Linked DNA regions of Homo sapiens: region 2 is linked to region 1. Evidence: fine-mapped expression QTL. A gene starts in region 1. The other region holds a variant in brackets. All regions are shown on one strand. Distances are between the middles of the regions. Region 1 holds the start of EMC10 (ER membrane protein complex subunit 10). Region 2 overlaps JOSD2 (Josephin domain containing 2).

Region 1 (5,364 bases):
TCTCCTGCCTCAGCCTCCCGAGTAGCTGGGATTACCGGCGCCCGCCACCACACCTGGCTAATTTTTTTTTTTTTTTTTGAGATGGAGTCTCGCTCTGTCGCCCAGGCTGGAGTGCAGTGGCGCAATCTCAGCTCACTGCAACCTCCGCCTCCTGGGTTCACGCCATTCTCCTGCCTCAGCCTCCCGAGTAGCTGGGACTACAGGCGCTCACCACCACGCCCGACTAATTTTTTGTATTTTTAGTAGAGACGGGGTTTCACTGTGTTAGCCAGGATGGTCTCGTTCTCTTGACCTCGTGATCCACCCACCTCAGCCTCCCAAAGTGCTGGGATTACAAGCGTGAGCCACCGCACCCGGCCCTGGCTAATTTTTTGTATTTCTGGTAGAGACAGGGTTTTGCTATGTTGGCCAGACCGGTCTCAAATTCCTGGCCTCAAATGATCTGCCTGCCTTGGCCTCCCAAAGTGCTGGGATTACAGGTGTGGGCCACCGCACCCGATCTGCATTACTTTTTCAATGAAAAAATATGACGTAAAGGGGCAGTGTGGAGTGAGGCACAGGAGGGCTCAAGAACCATGAGATCCACAATCATGACAAGCTTGGCATTCCAATCCTGGCCCACTCTGGAGCCACAGTGGGACCCTGGGCAACTGGCTCCCGGCTCTCTGAGCCTCAGTTTAGCTCTTTGGCGGATGGGGCTAAGGGACCCCACCATGTGAAGATATGAGGTCAGAGGTGAGATCGTATGCGCGGCCTAGGGGCGTCTGGCATGAGCAGGCCCTGCGGAAATGATCATTCTCCTGACCGCTGCTGGGGCATGGCTGAGGACTGTCCCCTTCAGGTCTGTCTAATCTCTGATTTCTGGCCCCTGAGGGCTGCTCTGTCCTTGTTCTCCCGGGTAGATGGCAGCTCAGGGAGGGCCGGTAGCACTGCCAGCTCCTGGCCCTGGGGGTGGTCTGGACGAGGGGAGGTACTGCTGGGGGCTCAGGTGCCTGGAGCTGAGGGAGGAAGGGGTCTCGGCTGAGGTGGGGGCAGTTACCCGAAGAGTTGCAGGTGTCCGTTCTCCTTGGCAGGGCCGGCCAGAAGCAATAGGTCCGGGAGCTCCAGGGCTGGACTGGAGGCTGCCACCCCCATGGTGACCTCGTTGGCAACTTCTCCCAACCGAGTCACCTGGGGCCAGAGGTCAGAGGTCGGGGCAGGATAGATGTCGGGGCAGAACTGAGGAGGGATCAGAGGTTAGGAATCTTGGTAGGGGAAAAGGTCATGAACCAGGTGAGTTGAAAATCAGGCTGGGGGCCAGATATCTTGAAATTAAAGTTCAAGAATCATATGGGTGTGAAGTCAGGGAAACTGAGGCAAGGGAGTTACAGGCCAGGGTTCACAAAGAATCTAGAGAACTAGAAGTATGGGGTGTCAGAGATCACATAGGAGTTGGGAGTCGGGAATCCCACGAGATGGACGTTATGGGGGAGCAGGGGCTTTCCAAGTCAGGAGGAGGTCGAGGGGCAGGCCGAGGCTGGGGATGAGGGGGTTCTGGGGCTCCCTACCTGTACGAAGTTGCTCTCAAAGATGGGGAAGTCCCGAAACTGGTCGAATTCGCCGCTCTGGAGGTAGCGTTGGAGCCGTCTGGGACGGCCCGTGGGAGAGGCTGCAACCAGGAGGCATTTTACCAGGACGAAGTCTGGGGGTCGATCCTGGGAGGCTGTGCCTGGCTTCCCAACTGAGAGGGCCCGGCACAGCCCCGCGGAGAGGACGGGGTATCAGATGCCCCCGAATTGCCGGCCCCATCCTACTTGGTTCCTTCACCAGGTCCAACCCCTCTAGGCCTGGCTCCCCTCTCTCACCTGCCATCCCACCTGGTTCCACCTCGCCAGCTCCACCCAGGGCCGGCTTAGGGCCGCGATCCCGCCTCATTGCAATGTCCCCGTCCGACGGGAGCGGACGGAGGAGCAGAGGGAGAAAGCGAGGGGGCGGGACTACGCGCACTGTGACGTCATGATGCGGAGCGGGCTTTATGACGTCACACAAGAGCGGGCTCCTGATTTGTGATGACGTCCCTGGAGGGGGCGGCTCCTGGAGATCAGGCCAAAGGGGCGGCCCCATCCTGCTGACGTCAGGCCCCAGGTGCGGACGGGTGCCAGTGCGCAGGTGCCGGGGCCCAGCGCAGGCGCACGGGCGTCAGGATGCGGCCTGTTCCTCCCGGCGTGCTCCGCGGCTCTTGGCTCACAGCCGTCCCTTCGCTGGTGGGAAGAAGCCGAGATGGCGGCAGCCAGCGCTGGGGCAACCCGGCTGCTCCTGCTCTTGCTGATGGCGGTAGCAGCGCCCAGTCGAGCCCGGGGCAGCGGCTGCCGGGCCGGGACTGGTGCGCGAGGGGTGAGTGCTCTTTAGCTGTGCATAGCGGGCGCGGTCTACGGATGTCGCAGGTCTTGGGTCTTTAGGTGAGTTACAGACGGAAGGAGGCTGCGCAGGGCTGAGAGGGAAGAGGTGGGAGATCCCTGGAAAGCCAGGCCTCAGTCACGCACGCGCAGGAGGGGCCTCGCCAGTGCACCGGGTTGCAAGGACTGGGTGGGAGGACAAGCGCACCTGTCGGAAGGCTCTGGCTCGGGAATATGTATGAGGGGGCGGGGCTGGGGGTGTGGAATCTTGGAGAATCCGACGTCCGGGCGGTTGAAATGAAAGAGGCAAGGTGAAGCCGGGCGCGGTGGCTCATCTGTCATCCCAACGCTTAGGGAGGCCGAGGCGGGAGGATTGCTCTAGGCCAGGAGTTCAAGACCAGCCTGGGCAACATAGCGAGCCCTGTCTCTACAAAAAATACTAAAAAAAAAAAAAAAATTAGGCCGGTCGCGGTGGCTCATGCTTGTAATCCCAGCACTTCGGGAAGCCGAGGCGGGCGGACCACTTGAAGTCAGGAGTTCAAGACCAGCCTGCTCAAAATGGTGAAACCCCGTCTCTACTAAAAACACAAAAATTAGCTGGATGTGGTGGCAGGTGCCTGTAATTCCAACTACTCGGGAGGCTGAGGCAGGAGAATCGCTTGAACCCAGGAGGCAGAGGTTGCAGGGAGCTGAGATCACGCTACTGCACTCCAGCCTGGGCGACTGAGCGAGACCCTGTCTCAGAAAAAGAAAATAAGGCGTGGGAGGGGGCTCTTGAGGAAGTGGAGATGAGTTTTGTCTCCTAAATATGCGTGAGTATGCAAGTTTGGAGGTTGGAGAAAAGGAAAGCATGAATCTTGAATGTGCTTAATAGGGACTGAACTCAGGCTGCATCTTGGCTATTGGGCTGTCAGGTGATAAGGAGGCCATTTGAATATTAGCATGAAAAAGAAGGCTTGGGAGAGGGAGAGTGTCATTTAACTCATGAGTATTTGTGGCGCAAGGCTTGGAAGTGACCTTGGGATAGTTGCTTTGGCAATGAGGTTAGGCATGTTTGTAGGGTCTGGTTTTCTGGGGGTGAGGGAGTGCAGAGTATGAATATTCATGAAATGGGTGGTTTCTAGTGAAATAAAGGCAAGCAGCAGTGATTAACTTGAAGATAAGGCTCCTCCCTCAGCCCACCAGTCTGTCTGTCCTGGGTTCTGTGGGTGACTACTATGCTGAGGGCTTGGGTGGTCCTCACCTGGGGCCTTCTGTGTCCTCTGCAGGCTGGGGCGGAAGGTCGAGAGGGCGAGGCCTGTGGCACGGTGGGGCTGCTGCTGGAGCACTCATTTGAGATCGGTGAGTCAGGCAACGTCCTCTCCTAGACACTTAACATTGGTGCCCTGAGAAGTCAAGACTTGGAGTCTGGGTGCCTCCCGTCGTATGACATTTACTAACAACCATTTACTAACAGATTTGCCTCAGGTTAGGGGAAAGTGGGACATGAAAGAAGAGAAACACTCTTTAAATGCCCCCTTGCCTGTGAGACAAACCTCAGTTTTTAAAAGGTCATCACAGCAGTAATAATTTCAGAGCGGCTTTCCTGATCAGTCGCCACGTGCCCAGCATTAGCGGTTCCACGCTTTGCAAGTATTAACTCAGATGTCCTCACAGCAGCCATGTGAGGTGGTAGGTATTCGTGTCAGCCCCTTTTTCCAGAAGAGGAAACGGGCTCAGAGTAGGCACCACACAAGGTCTCATCGTGAGTGAGTGGCAGAGCAGGGGCCAGCTTCAAACCCAAACTTAAATTGCCATGATGCAGGTGTCCAGGTTCCCAGAGCTGGACGTCAGTGCTGCCCAGAGTGTAGTAATCGAGTCTGAGGCCCCGAACCTGAGGGCACAAACCCTGAAGCTGGTGCCCCTCTGCAAACCCTGGCATCTGCTCAGTGAACAGCTCCCCTGATTCTGACATGGCCAGGTAGTTGGGAATTCCTGAACTCCACAGCCTCCGTATTTTGCAGTTGGGGAAGCTGAGGCTCAGAGAGGTTGTGTGGCTATCCCTGGGTCACCTGGTGAGGCAGAGGCAGGATTTGGGAGCTGTGGGGTTCATGCATCTGCTACGGGTTGCCTTGTGAGGTGGAACATGGTGGAGGTGTCCCCACTTTGCAGATAGCAAAATGGGGGCCCAGATGGGGAGGGAACCTGGTCACTCGGGTGGAGGCCAGGCCAAAATTTGAAGCTGGACCTCCTGGCCCCTGCCTGGGTTGAAGGGTGGGCGGGGGAGGGGGCGTCTCTGAACCTGAGCTCCTCACAGATGACAGTGCCAACTTCCGGAAGCGGGGCTCACTGCTCTGGAACCAGCAGGATGGTACCTTGTCCCTGTCACAGCGGCAGCTCAGCGAGGAGGAGCGGGGCCGACTCCGGGTGAGGTGGGGCCCTCAGGGCTGGGTGTGGATGGGGATGGAGGGTTTCCAGCTGTCTCTTCAGCCACCCCCTGCTGGTCCCCAGCAGCCTTCCCTCCAGGCCCAGGTGGGCTCCCAGCACCACCTGCCACTCTCAGCCTCTGTCCTCAATGACTGCCCCTGGAGGAACGGCATTGCAGTTCGTCTTAGCGCCGCCAGGCATGGTGTCCTGCATCACGGCCTCTTCCTGCACTGCTCCCTCTGCTGGCAGACCCCCTTCCCCTGCAGGTTCACACAGTCGGCTCCTCTTCTTTTCCAGATCAGCTGAGCTGTTTCATGACCACTTAGATGAGATTTGTTTGTGAGGAGAAAGCCTCAAAATAGCTATGGTTGGACAGGAGCTCACTTCTGTCGCCCTGTGTTGTGGCAGCCTCAAGGGCCCAGCTCAATCCTCCGCAGGGGTCATGCAGAGAGGCCCCAGGGCTCCAGGCAGCAGGATAGAGAGGGAGAAAGAGGGGCAGAAGGAGCAGCAGCATTTAGAGAAAGCTTGCAAAAGCTGGCACAACCCACTTCCACCCATCAGCCAGATGTAGCTGTGAGGGAGG
Region 2 (5,364 bases), 26 kb after region 1:
CTGGTCTGTCCTGCCCGCTCTCACCTGCCAGAATATGGGGGTTGGGGCAGGAGGGAGTGGGAGCAGGAGGAGGTCAGCTGGCCCCTCTCCCCCCACCCCCAGCGCCCCCAGCTCCTCCTCCCGGGGCTCCTCACTCCGGACCTTATTTGGCCATAGCCCAGGACGCACCTGGGGGCCACAGCCCCGCCTGCCACTCAGGCCCAAGAATAGCAACACTCAGGCCCCCGCCAGTCTGTCTGGGACCTGCGATGGGACAGGCGACAGGCACAGGGTGGCAGGGAGGGGCCCAGGGGCACTGAGAGAAGGGGAGAGACACAGACAGAGGGGAGAGACAGCGAGCTGAGGAGAGACTGAGAGAGACCGTGGGAGAGACAGAGAGACAGGGTCAAAGAGACAGAGAGGGGTGGAGAGAAATGCCCAGCAAGAGAGATAGAGAAGGGAGGCTGAGACAGGCGAAGCGAGAGAGGGAGACACAGAGACAGAGGGGGTTAGCCAGGGGCCCGGGGCCAGACACCCAGATGGGGCAGAGAGCGAGACCCACACCAGCAGAGGCGTGGGGAGCCCGGTGGGCGGGCAGGAGGTGCAGGGATCTGGATGGGATGGGGCCAGAGCCGTTCGGGAGTCTGCAACCCCCAGCAGTTTCCCCTCCGGTGCTGTCTGGCTTTTAACTTTACGACCTGCCCTTTGACCTTGGGAAAACTTGCAAACCAGAACCTGCCACACCCTGGTCCATGCGCAGCCAGGGCTTTCATGAGTGTGTCCTGCGGGGCATCAGCTCCACCTTGCCAGGGGTGCATGGGCAGCTTGTGGGCTGCCTGGATGAACTGCCTGCCTGGGCGCATGGGCCTGTGGCTCCAGGAGGGGACACACCCCAAGCCAGGGACCCCTTGCCTCCCTGTGCCTGAGTCCCCCACTTCTGCAGGTGCCTAACGGGGATCCCCAGGTTCATCCAGGCCCCTGGACACCTTCCACTCATTCCTGCCTCCTCACCTCCCAGGGCCCACCAGCCTCAGACCCTCCTCTCTGTCGCCCTCAGGGGCCTAGCTCAAGCCCTGCCTCGCCCCTCCCAGCCTCCTCCCGGGCCTCCTGGCTTCTGGTTCCCCCTCCATTCTGTGCCTGCAGCCCCAGAGGGGTCTCTGCACCCAGAGCTGACCTGTCCTTCCCTTCTCGCAGCTCCCAGGCTGCCCTTGGAGGTCCCGCCTGGTTGGGTTCCTGGCCGGGACCCACCCTCCTCCTTCATCACCTCCTCAAATAACTCTGGCGATAAACAGCCGTGGCGTTCCAGGTCTCATCCGGGATGACTTCCAATTCTGGAGTGCCCTCCCGTGCCCCGCCAGCCTCTGCAGAGCCCTCCTCAGCCTTCCGTGGCCAGCCTTGTCTCTGGGCCATTTTATGCGACTTGCTTGTCCCGGGGTCCCTTCTCTGTTCTCTCGTCCCTGCAGTGCTCTGTGGGAACCCCATAAAAGCCCCCACTGCTGGGACAGAAACTCTTGGTGTCCCCTTGGGTCTCCCCACAGGGTGGGAGCTGGGAGGGTGGGCCGACACTTCCCGTCAGCACAGGCGTCCCTCCTCCGCTGTGGGGACCCTCGTGATGACCCGGGGCCCACCGGGGGATCCAGGACACTCTCCCTGTCCCAGTCCCACTCGCAACCTCACTCTCCCTTGGCCAAGTAACACAACATATTCACAGGCTCCAGGGATTAGGACAAGGCATCTTTTAACTGTATTTATTTTAATTAATTTTTTTTTTTGAAATGGAGTTTCACTCTTGTTGCTGAGGCTGGAGTTCAATGGCGCGATCTCAGTTCACTGCAACCTCCGCCTCCTGGGTTCAAGCGATTCTCCTGTCTCAGCCTCCCAGGTAGCTGGGATTACAGGTACCTGCCACCATGCCTGGCTAATTTTTTTTTTTTTTGAGACGGTGTCTCACTCTGTCACCCAGACTGGAGTGCAGTTGGTGCGATCTCGGCTCACTGCAACCTCCGCCTTGCAGGTTCAAGCAATTCTCCTGCCTCAGTCTCCTGAGTAGCTGGGATTACAGGCATGTGCCACCACACCTGGCTAATTTTTGTAATTTTAGTAGAGATGGGGTTTTCACCATGTTGGCCAGGATGGTCTCAATCTCTTTACCTTGTGATCCACCCACCTCAGCCTCCCAAAGTGCTAGGATTATAAGCGTGAGCCACTGCACCTGGCCTAATTTTTTGTTTGTTTGTTTGAGATGGAGCCTCACTCTGTCACCCAGGCTGGAGTGCAGTGGCACGATCTCCACTCACTGCAAGCTCCGCCTTCTGGATTCACGCCATTCTGCGTCAGCCTCCCCAGTAGCTGAGACTACAGGCGCCTGCCACCATGCCTGGCTAATTTTTTTGTATTTTTAGTAGAGACGGGGTTTCACCGTGTTAGCCAGGATGGTCTCAGTCTTCTGACCTCATGATCCGCCCGCCTCGGCCTCCCAAAGTGCTGAGATTACAGGCGTGAGCCACCGTGCCTGGTCTATTATATTTATTTTTATTTATTTTTTTGAGACAGGGTCTCACTCTGTCACCCAGGGTGGAGTGCAGTGATTCGATCATGGGTCACTACAGCCTCGACCTCCTGAGCTCAAGTGATCCTCCTGCTTTTGCCTCCCAAAGTGCTAGGGTTACAGGTGTGAGCCACCATGCCTGGGCTATTATATTTTGAGACAAAGTCTCTCTTACTCACGATCATGGCTAACTGCAGCCTTAACCTCCTGGGCTCAAGCAGTCCTTCTGCCTCAGCTTCCCAAGTAGCTGTGATTACAGGCGCAGGCCACCACGTCCCACTTATTTATTTATTTATGAGACAGAGTCTTCCTCTGTTGCCAAAGCTGGAGTGCAGTGGTGCAATCTCGGCTCACCAAAACCTCCACCTCCTGGGTTCAAGTGATTCTCCTGCTTCAGCCTCCCGAGCAGCTGGAATTACAGGCGTGCACCACCACACCTGGCTAATTTTTGTAATTTTAGTAGAGATGGGGTTTTCACCATGTTGGCCAGGCTGGTCTCGATCCCTTTACCTCGTGATCCACCCACCTCGGCCTCCCAAAGTACTGGGATTATAGGCGTGAGCCACGGCACCTGGCCTATTATTATTATTATTATTATTTTTGAGACGGAGTTTCACTCTGTCACCTAGGCTGGAGTGCAGTGGCACGATCTTGG[T/C]TCACTGCAAGCTCTGCCTTCTGGATTCACGCCATTCTCCTGCCTCAGCCTCCCCAGTAGCTGAAACTACAGGTGCCCACCACCACGCCCAGCGAATTTTTTTGTATTTTTAGTAGAGACGGGGTTTCACCATGTTAGCCAGGATGGTCTCAATCTCCTGACCTCGCGATCTGCCCGCCTTGGCCTCCCAAAGTGCTGGGATTACAGGCGTGAGCCACCGTGCCTGGTCTATTATATTTATTTTTATTTATTTTTTTGAGACAGGGTCTCACTCTGTCACCCAGGGTGGAGTGCAGTGATTCGATCATGGCTTACTACAGCCTCGACCTCCTGGCCTCAAGTGATCCTCCTGCCTCCACCCCCCAAGTAGCTGGGATCACAGGTGTGCACCACCATGCTTAGCTTATTTTAAAATTTTTTGTAGAGACGGGGTCTCACTATGTTGCCCAGGCTGGTTTCAAACTCCTGAGCTCAAGTGATACTCCTGCTTTTGCCTCCCAAAGTGCTAGGGTTACAGGTGTAAGCCACCATGCCTGGGCTATTATATTTTTGAGACAAGATCTCTCTTACTCACGATCATGGCTAACTGCAGCCTTAACCTCCTGGGCTCAAGCAATCCTCCTGCCTCAGCTTCCCAAGTAGCTGCGATTATAGGTGCTGGCCACCATGTCCCGCTTATTTATTTATGAGACAGAGTCTTCCTCTGTTGCCGAGGCTGAAGTGCAGTGGTGCGATCTTGGCTCACCAAAACCTCCATCTCCTGGGTTCAAGCGATTCTCCTGCCTCAGCCTCCTGAGTAGCTGGGATTACAGGCACCCGCCACTACAACCAGCTAATTTTTGTATTTTTAGTGGAGATGGGGTTTCACCATGTTGGCCAGGCTGGTCTTGAACTCTTTTTTTTTTTTTTTTTGAGACAGAGTCTCGCTCTGTTGCCCAGGCTGGAGTGCAGTGGCACAATGTTGGCTCACTGCAAGCTCTGCCTCCCGGATTCATGCCATTCTCCTGCCTCAGCCTCCCAAGTAGCTGGGACTACAGGTGCCCGCCACCATGCCTGGCTAATTTTTTTGTATTTTTAGTAGAGACGGGGTTTCACCGTGTTAGCCAGGATGGTCTCGATCTCCTGACCTCGTGATCTGCCTGCCTCAGCCTCCCAAAGTGTTGGGATTACAGCCATGAGCCACCGCGCCTGGCCAGTCTTGAACTCTTGACCTCGGGTGATCTACCCGCCTCGGCCTTCCAGAGTGCTGAGATTACAGGCGTGAGCCACCAGCCTCACATGCCACTTATTTTAATTTTTTTTTTTTTTAGAGACAGGGTCTTGCTATGTTGCCCAGGCTGGTCTCATACTTGTGGACCTCAGCCTCCCAAAGCACTGTGATTACAGGCATGAGGCACCACATCTGGCCAGGGTGTGGACATCTTTGGGGCCACTGTTCTGCCCGCCTGCCAATCAACGGAATAGAATCGAGAGTCAAGAAGTAAACTCAGGCATGGTGGCTCACACCTATAATCCCAGCACTTTGGGAAGCAGAGGCAGGCAGATTGCTTGAGGTCAGGAGTTCAAGACCAGCCTGGGCAACAAAGCGAGATCCCATCTCTACAAAAAAATTTAAAGAAAGTAGTCAGGTATGGTGGCATGCACCCGTGGTCCCAGCTACTTGGGAGGCTGAGGTGGGAGGGTCGCTTGAGCCCAGGAGTTCAAGGCTACAGTGAGCTGTGATTGACCCACTGCACTCCAGCCTGGGTGACAGAGTGAGACCCCTGTCTCAATCAATCAATCAAATAAAGAAGTAAACACCTGCTTTCTCCTTAGCAATGACCCCCGTGGAACCCAGGAGATCAAACTCATTTGTTTGCCACTGGTCTCTCTCCAGCACCGGAGGAGCGTGAGCCCCAGGGGGCACGGACTTGTGTTTTTTTCTGCTGTGTCACTGATGAGGAAACTGAGGCCCAGCAGTGAGAAACTGGCATGAGGTGGCAGAGAACCAGGAGGCCTCCTGGGCTCTCGGCCCCACACACCAGGGTGTCTGGCCTGTAAGGTAAGTGGGAGTCACTGAGTGGAAGGGGCCCCAGAAGGGTGGGGCCGTCAGACACAGGCCAGGCAGGCAGCAAATCAGCAGATTTATTGAGGCAGCAGCGGCAGTGGGGAGCAGGGGTGTGGGGAGGGGGCGGGGCCTCCC

The links. PIP is the estimated chance that this variant, and not a neighbour inherited with it, causes the effect.
Region 2: its variant is the best candidate, but not a certain one, in a credible set for the expression of EMC10 in monocytes (TOPMed, PIP 0.52).

Annotation. Positions count from the first base shown.
Region 1 is chr19:50,474,286-50,479,649 of GRCh38, forward strand. EMC10 (ER membrane protein complex subunit 10) reads left to right here and starts at 2,222. Exons shown (of 7, transcript NM_206538.4): 1 at 2,222-2,373; 2 at 3,644-3,716; 3 at 4,672-4,781. The coding sequence starts at 2,260. GARIN5A (golgi associated RAB2 interactor 5A) reads right to left here and starts at 2,563. Exons shown (of 5, transcript NM_001308429.2): 1 at 1,845-2,563; 2 at 1,548-1,648; 3 at 1,040-1,218. The coding sequence starts at 2,103. RefSeq lists enhancers at 1,860-2,360, 2,227-2,426.
Region 2 is chr19:50,500,710-50,506,073 of GRCh38, forward strand. It overlaps JOSD2 (Josephin domain containing 2), which reads right to left. Exons shown (of 5, transcript NM_001270639.2): 5 at 5,289-5,364. Among named protein-coding and RNA genes, the nearest start is that of JOSD2, 7.8 kb to the right of the region's middle. RefSeq lists an enhancer at 622-1,285. The variant T/C (reference allele first, on the strand shown) is at 3,183.